2 separate regions of the Homo sapiens genome follow, and region 2 is linked to region 1. The links come from fine-mapping of genetic effects on gene expression. A gene starts in region 1. The other region holds a variant in brackets. All regions are shown on one strand. Distances are from middle to middle. Region 1 holds the start of PPARG (peroxisome proliferator activated receptor gamma). Region 2 overlaps PPARG (peroxisome proliferator activated receptor gamma).

Region 1 (2,911 bases):
TCTGAAAGTGTGCAGCACCACCGATCAGAAGAGAAAACCAAGGGACCCGAAATATGCTTTAATTAAATTTTCTTTTAAAATGTCACTGGAAAGAACATCTTGGGAAGACGGCCTGGCCGATCGCCGTGTGAAGGGCAAGCCACTCTGGCCGAGAGGGAGCCCCACACCTCGGTCTCCCCAGACCGGCCCTGGCCGGGGGCATCCCCCTAAACTTCGGATCCCTCCTCGGAAATGGGACCCTCTCTGGGCCGCCTCCCAGCGGTGGTGGCGAGGAGCAAACGACACCAGGTAGCCTGCCGCGGGGCAGAGAGTGGACGCGGGAAAGCCGGTGGCTCCCGCCGTGGGCCCTACTGTGCGCGGGCGGCGGCCGAGCCCGGGCCGCTCCCTCCCAGTCGCGCGCCGCCGCCCCCGCCCCCGCCCCCGCCCCCGCCCCCACCCCCACCCCCACCCCCACCCCCAGCCGGCGCCCGCGCCCGCCCCCGCGCCGGGCCCGGCTCGGCCCGACCCGGCTCCGCCGCGGGCAGGCGGGGCCCAGCGCACTCGGAGCCCGAGCCCGAGCCGCAGCCGCCGCCTGGGGCGCTTGGGTCGGCCTCGAGGACACCGGAGAGGGGCGCCACGCCGCCGTGGCCGCAGGTCAGAGTACGGGTGCCCGCGGCGCTCGGGAACCGGCTGCTGGCTGGGCGGGGAGTGCTCAGGGAGGGGGCGCGGAGGGCTGGGGCCGAGGGTCTGGGGGCTAGGGCCGAGGAAACGGGAACTGACGGGGTCCCAGACGGATGAGAGCTGGGGAGAAGGGGGTCTCGGCTGAGGGGTCCGGGGCTGAGGCAGGGTCATGGTCCGGCAGGACCCGGACTGACGGGTCGCGGGCGGGCGGCTCACGGGTGACCGGGTGAAGGGGTCTTGGGCTGAGGGCACCCGGGCTGAGGGTCGCGTCTACCGGAGCGCGCACTAGGGGCGGAGGGCGCGGGCACAGAGAGCCGCGGCCGGTGCCGACTCGAGTGGACGCGAGCCGGTGCGTCCCGGCTTCCAGGACAGCCCCCCTCGGGAGAGCGCCGGGTGGGCGCGGAGCCGGGGACACGGGGACCTCCGCGTCCCCGGCGGAGGTGCGCAAGCGTCGGGAGCCGCTCCGGGGGAACTTTGGAGCAGGGTGTCTGGACCCGGGGAAGCGAAGATCCGCGTGCGTCCGTCCTGAGGCCGCGCGGCACCCCTGCTGAGGAGGAGGTCCCGTTCGCTGTCCAGAGCCCAGGGGCGACCGCCGCTTGGGGACCGGGGGACCGTTCAGCGAGGGGCGCGCTTGTAGCTGGCCAGGCCCTGTGCCCTGACGCGTTGTGCTGGCCCTACGCCCGGCGGAGGGGCTGGGGACGGGGACTGGGTGCCTCCGTGCCTCCGCGGATGGAGCGCGCAGCCAGGACCCCCAGCCGCACCCCGGGGGGCTGGAAAGGCGAAGTCGCTGCTTTGTGGGCTCCTGCAAGTGCCAGGCGCTGACCACTCCTCCTGGGAGCCTAACTGAGGGGGGTAGAGGCAGCAGAGGTTAACAGAAATCTCAGGTCCCTTGGTGGAAGGTGGGTGTGTAGTCGTGGTACTTTACGCCTCGGTGTTTAGGGAGGAGCCTAAGGTAAGGAGTCAGAAACGGGGAGTAACCGAGCTGCGGCTTTTATATAAGGTCAGTGGTAGGTAAGGAAGGGGCCTTAACCTCTGCTGGTGACCAGAAGCCTGCATTTCTGCATTCTGCTTAATTCCCTTTCCTTAGGTGAGTTGGCTCACTCTCATTGCATTTTGTTGGAATGTGTTGGTGATAGGTCCGAAATTTGCAAAATTATTGTATTATCCTTATATCATTTTTTTTTGCAGTGCTCTTGTTTTATAAGAAGAATCCAATTCACTTGGGTCATAGGCTAACGGTTGTAAAAATAGTGTCATTGTTATAAAAGAAATCAAGTCAAAAATAGTCGTCTGCCATGAAGAAACTAAAATTTTTCTTCTTTTCCTTGCAAGATTAGGGACAAAATGTAAAGTTTATTTGTGTAAATTATCATTTGGATATAAAACCAGACAATGATAAACTGAGTTGTATAATACCTATTCCTGGAAAACCTCTGATTTTGAAGTACATTATTTTAACCCCAACTGTTTCTGTCATTCGTGAGACAAATTGTTAACTGGATTTATTAAGAGAACAATGAATAACTTAACTCTTTAAAAGGACCTGGGCAAATCTTCGACAGGTTTCAGGTATTTTATGGCAGTCTTTCTGTCTATTGCTAAGTGATCGATTGCTGACTGAGAACAGAACCAACTGATGGTGCTAGATGATTTAGAAAACCTTTCTGGTATAGGGACTGGCATGGACATTCACTGTGGCTTTTCTCTTAAAGAAATACCTTTCACTCCTAGGGGAGTTTGACAGAAGACACTCATAGATGCTACCAGTTAGCATTTGGAGTAATATATCAAAACATTCTGTTCAAGTTTTAAAGTAAGTTTTGTGTAGTATATTTTCAATCAGATTCACTTTGGAATCAAATACACTTTATTTGATTCCAAATAAAGTGTATTTGAATATTCACTTTAATATACGAAACTTTAAAGGTAATGTCTCAGCCAAAAAGTGAAGTGTATTACAAAACTGTCCATTTTTGTCTTCTTGTGTACTTCACATAATTTTTCTCCCTGATTTAAATTATATGATATTTGATAGTTAACTTGCTAATAATTATGTCTTAAGAGATCTTTGAATCAACTGGTGGCCATCTCAGTCTTTTAAAACTCACTTGAAGGAAAAGAGAAACACTAATGATGGTTTTTTTTAAAATCAAAAACTTTTTTCATATTTACAAGTTTGTTTCTAGTTCTTAAACAATAACTGCTGTAAAACCATGGCATCAGTGAGGTATAAAGTTTTGTAGAATCCCAG
Region 2 (2,911 bases), 66 kb after region 1:
AAGTGAAATTGGGGGTGTTGCAAATGGTTGGGTACTGCTATTTAAGAAAAAGTGGCACATTTAGTGTGAATGACTCAGATATCCAGGTAGATTGGTCATATTCATGAGATTAAAAATCTCGACTACACTTAGCCACTATGCCCAAAGAGGACTTCCATACTTTTTCCAAGGCTCCATCATTGCTGTGACCCCTTTATATTATTCCCCTTTCTCTTTTTATCAAGAGCTCCTCAAGCAACCCCAAGTAACCTCATGCTGGCTCTGAAACCATTTCCACTAGTAAAAATTGGCAAGATTGAAGGGAAGCTTCCACAAGCTCAAGCTGAATATGCCTCCTGCTTTTAGTGCCAGACTTAGTCCTGTGTGAATTCTACAATTTTAAGTCGTTGCACCAGAGCCTTGAAAGATGATGACACACTTGTCCTTTGGAGCTGATTGAGCAATGGAAATATGCCTTAGAGACATGATAAATGCTGCAATAGACAATCCTTCAAAACGAGTCTCTCCTGAGATAGGAGTGAGTGATTGATTGCATGCCATTTTTATTGAGGGATACTTAATCTGTGGTTACATATCTCCAGGCAACTGTATATTCAGAAACATTTAGATAACTGACCAAAGTTTTCACCTTTCCAGAAGTTTAAAGGGACCCATGTAGTACCAGGGAATATAAGGACCAGTCCTTTGTTGGCCACATATTTGCTGTGTGAATTTAAGCACGCCATTTTTCTTCTCTGGCCTTCTGTTTCCACATATATTAACAGAATACACAGGATTAATGGGAGGATTAAATGACACAATACTTGTGCAAGTAGATCTAAAGCCCTATATGGAATTTATTGCTTTAGCCTTGTAGCGTTAATCACTTGTGGCTAGAATAGAAGGCTCCGTTTAAAAAAAGAAAAGGCTGGGTACAGTGGCTCACATCTGTAATCCCACAACTTTGGGAGGCCGAGGCGGGCAGATCACGAGGTCAGGAGGTCAAGAGGTCAAGACCATCCTGGCTAACACGATGAAACCCTGTCTCTACTAAAAATACAAAAAATTAGCCAGGCGTGGTGGTGGGCGCCTGTAGTCCCAGCTACTCAGGAGGCTGAGGTAGGAGAATGGCGTGAACCCAGGAGGCAGAGGTTGCAGTGAGGCTGAGATTGCGCCACTGCACTCCAGCCTGGGCGA[C/T]AGAGCGAGACTCCATCTCAAAAAAAAAAAAAAAAAAGAAAAGAAACCTACATTTTAAACACTTTATGGATATGGAAAAACAAAAACCGCAGAACTCTTTATTGCACAAGAGTAAGTGGCAGTTATATGAATGAAGCGGGGCATCCGCATGATCTCCTGTGAGTGTTTTGAGAAGATGATCAAACTTAGAGAAAGCATCTTTGTGTCTAATTTTTTTAAATGATGAAATTATTTCCCACTTTCATTAATATTTTCCTGTGAAGAAATTGAAGTTATTCTTTGGGCCTAAATAAAAGTGACAATTACATGTTTTCTTCTCAGAGGCATTGAGAAACTTGGATTATAATGTTTTTCGTACACTGAAGTAGAAGTCCAGAAAAGATTTGAGTTATTGACACAGATCTTCTTTTTTTTTTGAGACAGAGCCTCACTCTGTCACCCAGGCTAGAGTGCAGAGGCCTGATATCATATTTCACCACAGCCTCAACCTCCCTGGGCTTCGGTGATCCTCCCACCTCAGCCTCACTAGTAGCTGGGACTACAGGCGTACCTTACCACACCCAGCAAATTTTTGTAATTTTTATAGAGACAGGATTTCACCATGTTGTCCAAGCTGGTCTTGAACTCCTGGGCTCAAGGAATTCTCCCGCCTCGACCTCCCAAAGTGCTGGGATTACAGGCGTGAGCCATCGCAGCCTGCCCCTGAATTCCATAATTTCACGTGTAATTAGAATTCAAGACCTTTTTCTTGAATATTACTCTTGTCCATATTAATTTTTTTCTGAGTATGGCTCTAGCTTTATCATTTTTTTCTGACTTAACTCTGATTAACCTCTTTTTTCATCACCAGTACTTGGCAGATTTTGTAGATTTCTAAACTCTGAAAATCACTGTTTTTCTGAAAACTGTCATTTGTCTCATACTTTCCTCCAAAATTATGAATTATAGGAAACACCCCAAAGAAGTATCATTTACATTAGCTGTTTACAAGAAAATACAGGGTTTCATTTTTAATTTTATTTTCCCCTACTATCTCTAAGGAATACAACTTGTCTTGAAAGCTCCCTGACAGCAGCTATCCATTTAATCTGCCAATTGCAGTATAAAAATTGGTTATTAAATGAAAAACAATTGTATACCTCTCACAGAGGTTGTCATATATTACTATTTTTGTCAGCATTCTCACTTATAACTCTGTTAGGATAATCCTGGGAAAATTTCTAAAATCTTCATAGCTCTTTCGTTAGGTACATATTCCTTGAGACAGAGGAAATCTGAGCAAAGTAAATTTCTTCATTATCTTAGATCAACAAAAGTGATACAGAGCTTCTGTCCTGTTAGCTCCCTTTGGACGCTTAAAATAGGCACTAGAGGTTGTCCAGTAAATGCTTCATATCCATCTACTAGTGCTGAATATTTGTGAAAATATAGGTGATAATGAATTAGACTCGTTTGAATGGAATTAAGTTTCTGTAAAGTTTTACCAGATTGTCTTTTTTTTGTTTTTTGTTTTTTGTTTTGGTAAAAGCAGTTTTGCACCTGTAACTAATTTAAAGACGAAGAAATTGCACATGTAACTGATAGCAACTGCCATCCAACTCTTATAACCTCAGAATCAAGATCACGTGGCTATTTGAGTACACAGTGTTTTAAACCGTGTAATTTTTATTTGAGCAAGGGATTGCCAACACAAGATCGAGGTTCCCACAAGTGGTGAATGGCACTTGTGGTTAAC

The links. PIP is the estimated chance that this variant, and not a neighbour inherited with it, causes the effect. A credible set is the group of variants that fine-mapping cannot tell apart.
Region 2: its variant is the best candidate, but not a certain one, in a credible set for the expression of PPARG in whole blood (TOPMed, PIP 0.70).

What each region holds. Positions count from the first base shown.
Region 1 is chr3:12,287,388-12,290,298 of GRCh38, forward strand. PPARG (peroxisome proliferator activated receptor gamma) reads left to right here and starts at 1,683. Exons shown (of 8, transcript NM_138711.6): 1 at 1,683-1,747. RefSeq lists an enhancer at 1-244.
Region 2 is chr3:12,353,559-12,356,469 of GRCh38, forward strand. All of the region lies in intron 2 of PPARG (peroxisome proliferator activated receptor gamma), which reads left to right. Among named protein-coding and RNA genes, the nearest start is that of PPARG, 66 kb to the left of the region's middle. The variant C/T (reference allele first, on the strand shown) is at 1,177.